3 separate regions of the Homo sapiens genome follow, and all the other regions are linked to region 3. Evidence: fine-mapped expression QTL. A gene starts in region 3. Each other region holds a variant in brackets. All regions are shown on one strand. Distances are between the middles of the regions. Region 1 overlaps PDPR (pyruvate dehydrogenase phosphatase regulatory subunit). Region 2 overlaps PDPR (pyruvate dehydrogenase phosphatase regulatory subunit). Region 3 holds the start of PDPR (pyruvate dehydrogenase phosphatase regulatory subunit).

The links. PIP is the estimated chance that this variant, and not a neighbour inherited with it, causes the effect.
Region 1: its variant is the best candidate, but not a certain one, in a credible set for the expression of PDPR in whole blood (Lepik 2017, PIP 0.76).
Region 2: its variant is the best candidate, but not a certain one, in a credible set for the expression of PDPR in whole blood (INTERVAL, PIP 0.59).

Annotation. Positions count from the first base shown.
Region 1 is chr16:70,139,735-70,142,492 of GRCh38, forward strand. It overlaps PDPR (pyruvate dehydrogenase phosphatase regulatory subunit), which reads left to right. Exons shown (of 19, transcript NM_017990.5): 12 at 2,500-2,655. Among named protein-coding and RNA genes, the nearest start is that of PDPR, 27 kb to the left of the region's middle. The variant T/G (reference allele first, on the strand shown) is at 1,480.
Region 2 is chr16:70,161,942-70,164,699 of GRCh38, forward strand. PDPR (pyruvate dehydrogenase phosphatase regulatory subunit) reads left to right here. Exons shown (of 19, transcript NM_017990.5): 19 at 1-596. All of the region lies in intron 1 of LOC400541 (a long non-coding RNA gene), which reads right to left. Among named protein-coding and RNA genes, the nearest start is that of CLEC18C, 10 kb to the right of the region's middle. The variant T/TC (reference allele first, on the strand shown) is at 1,650.
Region 3 is chr16:70,112,937-70,115,694 of GRCh38, forward strand. It overlaps PDPR (pyruvate dehydrogenase phosphatase regulatory subunit), which reads left to right and starts at 1,396. Exons shown (of 19, transcript NM_017990.5): 1 at 1,396-1,504; 2 at 1,885-1,994. RefSeq lists enhancers at 1,360-1,409, 1,930-2,758.

The DNA of each region.
Region 1 (2,758 bases), 27 kb after region 3:
AGTTGTAATTTCATTTTCCTGTACTGAGGAGCTGTTCTCAGACTTTGCCAAATGGTATCTAAATATTTTGGGCATACTTATGCTCAGGACTAAGTTTCTGTGTTGGCTCTGACCACCATTCTTGGTTGCAAGTAAACTGTTAGTTTGGTAGTTGAACAACATTGTTGGTGAGGACTCTGGATGGCCTTTAATGCCTGAGTGCTCACTTTTGGCCTGGGAAGAGGATGTACATCCATGGAGATGAAGGACCTAACAGCAATATGTTTAACTGCTAAGGTTCTTTAATTTTAGCAAATATTTTGGTTAAAATGTTGAACTTGGCTGGGTGTGGTGGCTCATGCCTGTAATCCCAGCACTTTGGGACGTTGAGGGAGGTAGGTCACTTGAGGTCAGGAGTTTGAGACCAGCCTAGGCAACGTAGCGAAACCCTGTCTCTACTAAAACCAAAACCAAAAAATTAGCCATGCCTAGTGGCACACACCTGAAGTCCCAGCTACTTGGGAGGCTGAGGTAGGCGAATCACCTGAGCTGGGGAAGTTGAGGCTGCAGTGAGCCATGATGGTGCCACTGTGTACTCCAGCCTGGGCAGTGGGACTGAGACCCTGTCTCAAAAAAATAAAATACAAAATCAAAGTTTTTTGTTTTAAAGTTGAACTATTATAAGCCTAAATTTCCCTACCCATAGTTACTTTGGAACCTGTACAAATCATAATTGAGCTTGAGCTTCTGCTTGGTGATATGACACTTTTGGTAGCCAATTCTCATGAAATAGAAGTGGCAGGCACATAGAAAATGGGGAAGGCGCCAGGCGCAGTGGCTCAAGCCTGTAATCCCAGCATGTTGGGAGGCTGAGGCAGGCGGATCACTTGAGGTCAGGAGGTCTGGCCTGACCAACATGGCGAAACCCTGTCTCTACTAAAAATACAAAAATTTAGCCAGATGTGGTGGTACGTGCCTGTGATCCCAGCTACTTGGCAGGCTGAGGCAGGACAATCACTTGAACCCGGGAGATGGAGGTTGCAGTGAGCCAAGATCTCACCACTGCACTCTAGCCTGGGTGATAGAGAGGGATTCCATCTCAACAAAAAATAAAAAAAAAATAGAAAAGAAAATGGGGGAGGGGATGATAGAACCGAAAGTACTAGGAGATGGAGAGATTGTCACCATGCAGAGAACCCCACCTGGCTTCCTTCTCCTGTCTCCCAACCTCCCCAAGCCTTGATGTGCCTTTTGTTTGGGATGGTGTGAGATCAGGGACCACAGATCACACTCTTCTGGCTTTTTTTACTTATTGCTGTTGAAGATTAGACCTTAAGGGAAATGAATTTTTTTTTTTTCCGAGACAGTCTTGCTCTATTGCCCAGGCTGGAGTGCCGTGGCGTGATTTCGGCTCACTGCAACCTCTGCCTCCTGGGTTCAAACAATTCTCCTGCCTCAGCCTCCCGAGTAGCTGGGATTACAGGCGCCTGCCACCATGCC[T/G]GGCTAATTTATGTATTTTTAGTAGAGACAGGGTTTCACCACATTGGTCAGGCTGATCTTGAACTCCTGACCTCGTGATCCGCCCACCTCGACCTCTCAGTGCTGGGTTTACAGACGTGAGCCACCACACCCGGCCTAAGAGAAATGAATTCTGACCCTAGCTTTGTTGTGTGAATAATGTCATTGGTACAATACAATATAACTTCTCAGATTTCAGAGCCACCTAATCAAGCTGCAATATGTACCCTTTCACTTCAGAAGTGAGTTAATTATCAGGGAGGAAATGTCTGTAACAGGTCTGAGATCCTAACACAGGCACAATGAAGAATCGAATGCCATTTTTTCACATTTTGTTACCACCTGTGTCCCACTTAGTAACCTTCTTCTCTGCTATGAAGCTTGGTAAGGTTTAGGACCCTGACCTTTCTGCCATCATTTCTACCTACTAATGTGGAATGCTGAATGTGAATACAGGCCGAGTCATGCCGTGACACGTAGCTCCAGGGAGGGACGATAGCAGCTTGGCAGGATTGTCTTTTCCTTCTGGAGCATGCCTGATACACTGGGTAATTTTGAAAATTAGACTACATTAGCCTGGAAATTGGGCCGGGCAGAGTGGCTCACGCCTGTAATCCCAGCACTTCGGGAGGCTGGGGCGGGCAGATCACCTGAGGTCAGGAGTTTGAGACCAGCCTGACCAACATGGAGAAACCCTGTCTCTACTAAAAATACAAAAATTAGTGTGGCACGGTGACACGTGCCTGTAATCCCAGCTACTCGGGAGGCTGAGGCAGGAGAATCGCTTAAACCCAGGAGGCAGAGGTTGCAGTAAGCCGAGATTGTGCCACTGCACTCCAGCCTGGACAACAAGAGCAAAACTCCGTCTTAAAAAAAAAAAAAAACTACGTTAGCCTGGAAAGCTCTTTTGAATAGAAACAACTCCAGAGTCTAGTGGACATGGGCTACTCAGGTCTAGAATCTGTGTCTTGGGCTTTGATAGACTACTCGTGTCTTTTCTAGCTTTGATGTATGATCTGAAGGTTCCCCGCTGGGACTTCCAGACCGGTAGGCAGTTACGCACCTCTCCTCTCTACGACCGGCTGGATGCACAGGGAGCCAGGTGGATGGAGAAACATGGATTTGAGAGGCCAAAGTACTTTGTTCCCCCCGACAAGGGTAAGAAGTCACATTCTCATTTTTGCTTCTTTTTTTTTTTTTTGTCCTGGGAATTAATAAAACATATTTTCAAATGCATAGGCTAGAATGTGTTCACAGAAGA
Region 2 (2,758 bases), 49 kb after region 3:
CTTTCAAAAGATGTATGTCAGAATTTCCTTTGCACACCAAGAACTGGAGCTTAGAGCCCCACTATTCTCTAAGCCAGGTTCTAGTGCCTTACACTCCAGAATGTCAGATGGTGGGTGCAGATTGGAAGAAAGAGAAAAGTTCATCTCGGTGTGTGGGTTCCCATCCGCCCCACATAGCCTCTCCTTCTTCGGAACAATGGGCGTGGGGTAGAAAGCTCTTTCAGTGAAGGGTGTTCTAGCAGCTCAGTTAACACTTTACTCTCCAGTCAACACTTGGGACATATAAAAATGCCATTGTAACTACTGTAGAGTCCTGTGACTCATCGTTTGTGTTTGTCAATTTGCAGTTCAGCTTAGCCCTTCCCTGTTCCTGTGTAGTTACAATCTGGCCCTGAAGACATCCGAGGCACTTCAGTAAGTGGGATCTTTTCTAGAGATCCTGGGTGACTTTGGGTGCACAGGGTGACCGAGCATTTCTGCCCCTGTGAATGTGGCACTAACACTGTGCACTGTCTCCACCAAGCAAGGTTTCCACTGAGTTTCTTCTCATGTTACTGGGTTTGTAAATGAATAAACACATTTTAACTACTCTTGCACGGCTGCTTGTGAAATGTTCTTCATCTGTAGTGACTTAAATGTGTTTGCCACCACAAAGCATAAACAGCGTGCAGAGGAGAGTGTGTACCTCCCTGTGTGTACCAGTGTGAGGGAGGATTTGGGGACGGGGGTAGAGAAGATGTAGGTGTTTATCTTACCCTCCCTGCAGCGCTGGAGTGGCTGGGGGTAAAAGCTTCCCGCCTCCTGAAATTCCGACCGGCCTTCTGCCTACAGCTGACCTCAGGAGGAACCTGCCACCTGATGTTCCACACGGGCACGTGTGCACTCAGGTTTGTGTGGAAAGCAAGGGGGGTCGTGTTCTCACCCTGTGGAAACAACCCTGAGAGAAACAACCAGTGCTCTTTTTCTACACCAGCTTCCATCCACAAGTTGGTCCCTGGACTTGACCTGTTCACTAATTTTTTTTTTTGAGGCAGAGTCTTGCTCTTTTGCCCAGGCTGGAGTACAGTGGTGTGATCTTGGCTTACTGCAACCTCCACTCCCAGGTTCAAGTGATTTCCTGCCTTAGCCTCCAGAGTAGCTGGGATTACAGGCACGCGCCACCATGCCCAGCTAATTTTTGTATTTTCGTAGAGACGGGGTTTCGCCAGGTTGGCCAGGCTGGTCTCAAACCCCCAACCTCAAGTGATCCACCCACCTTGGCCTCCCAAAGTGCTGGGATTACAGGCGTGAGCCACTGTGCCTGGCCCAAAGTAATTTTTGAGTAGTTTTTTTTTTTTTAAGTATTTGTACTTTTGAGAATCTCATAGGTTAACATGTTTACAACAATCTCTTCATCTTGTCTTCTAAATCAGCCCCTTCTATTCCAGTTCCAGGAATAGTCAACCACGCCAGAAACCTGGGACTCACCTGGTCTCCCCACTCGCCTCTCCCTACACCTCCCGCTCATTACCCAGCCTCACAGGGCTGTCTCCTCAGTGCCTCTCCTCTGTTCGGACCTCACTGTCCCCACCACTGCTGCTGTGGCAGAGAGGGTTGTCAGCCCTGACTTCGAGAACAATCTCTTACTGATTTTCCTGCTTCTCATGTCA[T/TC]CCCCCCTCCCTCTGCAGGGTTGTCTTTGTAAAACAGGGGAGGTCAATTTACTCACTGCCTTGAAACCCTCAAGGGACTCCCCTTTGTCGTGAGACAAAGCTCTCAGTCCTTAGCCTGGCCAGCCAGGGTCTCCAGGGTGTGGCAGGCCACGCTGCCCCAGGGCTCCGGCCTGCGCTGCGTGTGATGTGGGTCCTGCAGCCGAGTGCGTGCTCGCCATCCACAGCTGGATCTCACCTCGAATCCTGCTTTCCAGTCACACTGAGAGGTCTCCCACTCCCATATTTGCTCACTAAAATGCCTCCTGGCAGCCCTCCCCTGTGCTTGTGGAAAGTCGCAAATTGAGGATCACATGGACCCCCACTCCCCCAAGTTGTCCTGACAGAGACCTCCTGTCTTTCATTTGATTGATTGATTGAGACGGAGTTTTGTTCTTCTTGCTTAGGCTGCTGGAGTGCAGTGGCGAGATCTCGGCTCACCACAACCTCCGCCTCCCAGGTTCAAGCAATTCTGCCTCAGCCTCCTGAGTAGCTGGGATAACAGGCATGCGCCACCATGCCTGGCTAATTTTGTATTTTTAGTAGAGACGAGGTTTCACTATGGTGGTCATTGGTCAGGCTGGTCTCGAACTCCTGACCTCAGGTGATCAACCCACCTCAGCCTCCCAAAGTGCTGGGATTACAGGTGTGAGCCACAGTGCCTGGCCCCTCCTGTCTTTCAAAAGCTCTGCCCAAGACCACCATCATCCCACAGTGGAGCCTTTCCTTCCCCAAGAGAATGGCCCCTTTGGGGTCCTCACACACCCGTTTCTGATGTGTCTTTATTTGGTTATCTGCCCTGCTCCTTCTGTAAGTCCCTCGGAGAAAGACTCGAATTCTCCCAAACTCCAACACCTCACATGGTGTTTGGTGTTTAACAGATGATTAAATGAATGGGCAAAAAGTGGAGGGCAAAATCTTTAAAATGTCTTTTAAGATTTAAGGATTTTAGGCCAGGTGCGGTGGCTCACACCTGTAATCCCAGCACTTTGGAATGCCGAGGCGGGCGGATCACCTGAGGTTGGGAATTCGAGACCAGCCTGACCAACATGGAGAAACCTTGTCTCTACTAA
Region 3 (2,758 bases):
AGGTGTCCCCAAGCATTCAATCCTAGCTAAAATATGGAAGTATTTATCTAGCACAGGAGCCTATGGCATAGTTTCAGTCCACTGTCTGGCAGACCTCATCTGGGCTGTCTTTGTGTGATTTGACTGGCCAGTAAATGGGGTATAAACTATGTAGGCTGTGGCCTGGCCTTGTGACAGAGGGGTCCCTGGAACTTGACTGCCACTCCCTAAGAGCAGAAACCGCCTCTTTCTTGTACATTGCTGGATCCCATCATCCTGCACAGTGCCTGGCTACAGGTGGCCAGCAATAAAACACAAGATTGGGGCAGGCACAGTGGCTCACGCCTGTAATCCCAGGACTTTGGGAGGCTGAGATGGAAGGATCACTTGAGGCCAGGAGTTCAGGCCCAGCCTAGGCAACATAGTGAGCCTATCTCTACAAAAAAAAAATTTTTTTTAAATTAATAAAACACAAGATTGGTTTGTGTGGTGAGACAGTATTGAATCCAACAAACGGGAACTGGATAGTGTGGCCCAAGATGCAATGGTGGCTGCAGCATGAGACCCTTATGCATATAATATTCAGTGGAAGAGGTGCCAGGCACTGTTCTGGGTGCTGAGAATAAAGCTATGCATAAGACTAAGGTTCTGTCGACAGAGATCGTGTCACACCAGTGGAAAAGACAGTCATCAAACTTATATCCTTGAGTCAGTGATGAGTTCTAGAAGGAAAGAAAAGGCTGATGTGACAGTGAGGAAGGGATGAGTGGAGACTTCTCTGAGACTTCAGTGATTCCTCTTCCTCTGAGCTGAGCCAAGCTGAGAAGCTGAGAAGAGTAAGATAGGGCCGGGAACTCAGGTCCGTTAGTCCGTCCTCCGAGGTGGGGCGGGCCAGCAGAATGGATTTCCGATCTACTCTGTGAGAGCCTCGCCCAAGAAAGCCCAGAGCCACTTCCAAGATCCGCGCTCCCACGGCGATGAGAAGCGTTTTCCCCCGGGACTGCTTGGCTTAGGACTGGGGACCCACTGGCTTTGGAGTAAGCCCTGGCACGGGCCTCGAGGGAAGAAAGAACTCCCGCGCTCCCCACACTCCACAGGGCCTGCGATCATCTCAGATGTTCCGGTTCCACGTGCAGAAACCCCGCCGGTCCGAGGCCCCGGTTCTAAAACGGCCCTAAGAGTCAAGGCTTCCACAGCTCGCCTCTGAGGGTGGCAAAGAGGCCGCGGGGGCGGTGCCTCGCGAGACCCAAACAAGCCCACGTGGCAGGGGCGGGGCTCCGCGAAGGCGTCACGGCGCGCTCGTGCGCTGCTGAGGTCACGCGCCGGCAGTACCCTTGCCCGGGGGCCGTAAAGCGCGGAAGGTCGCGGTCTCGGCTTCCCCGGAACTTTTTGCTCGCTTCGCCCCGCCCCCTTCCCATCCCCGAACCCCGCTTTCCGGCCCGCGGCGACCCCAGGCAACTGTTGTGGCTGCCGCATTGCTCCCGCCGGGCTGTAGCTGAGCGCGGAGCCCGTGGGGACCGGTGAGGTAAGGAGATAGCTTCGGGGCAACTCTGGCCTCCCCGTCCGCGCGGGCCTAAGCGCCCCGGGACCCCTGGGTTCCCCTCTTTCTCCTTTGGTTTCGCCCGGGGGTGGTCCCCGCTAGCTCACGCTTCCAGTGGGTTCCGCCTGGCCTCTCGCGAAGTCGCGTCCGGGCGCCAGTACTCGTCCCCGTAAGGTTGTCCGCTCGTGCCTTGGCTTGTGTTCTCGGCTACCCCTGGGCGTGCGCACCGCTCCTCCAGGAGCCTGCACTTCAGCCCCGATGCCAGGGCGGCCGGGGTGACCTCGGGCTCCCCCGTCTCGGGCTTGCACACCCCTGCGGCGCAGAGCCAACTCCAGCTTGTCTAGCCCGGTCCTCCATCCCTGCAGATGGAACTGTTTTCCCGCGTTGAGACGTGCGGTCCGCTTGTGCTTTTAGAACTAAAGACTGCTGCAGAGTCCGGAGGAAGAAGTCACCTAGAAAAATCTGGGACAGGGCAGTAAGCTTCCTTCTTAATGTTTGACCTTTGGGGGCCGATGTGTGATACCTCGGATTTGAATCAAGAATCTCCAAGCCCATTTTCCGCATGCATGTAAACGTGATGTACCGGGATGGGGTCTGGTGGTGGAGGAGGAGCCAGCCTGACGGATAAGCTTTTCCAGTGGCAGGGACTTGTGTTAATTTCTTTTTTCTTTTTTTTTCTTTTTTCCGAGACAGAGTTTCACTCTGTCGCCCAGGCGGGAGTGCAGTGGCGCGATCTCGGCTCACTGCAACCTCTGCCTCCTGGGTTCAAGCAATTCTCCTGCCTCAGCCTCCCAAGTAGCTGGGAATACAGGTGTGCGCCACCACGCCCGGCTAATTTTTGTGTTTTTAGTAGAGACGGGGTTTCACTATGTTGGCCAGGCTGGTCTCGAACTCCTGACCTCGTGATTCTCCCGCCTCAGCCTCCCAAAGTGCTGGGATTACAGGCGTGAGCCACTGCGCTCGGCCAACTTGTGTTAATTTCTTAAACTTGCGTGATCACCTGGTGTACTTGTTGAAAAATACAGCTCCCTGGAGTGGCAGGATCAGAATCTGCCGAGGTGGACCGTGGGAATCTGTCATTTTTAAACAAGTGTCCCAGGTGGTTCTTTTGCTGAGGCAAGTGTGGGAAATGTTGTGTGAACCCACGCTCATCCAGTCTTCCTTGTGACCGGCAGTCCACTGTGCGCAACGCTGCAGCCATACAGAGGGACAACTCGAAGTTAGAACTAGCACCTTGGT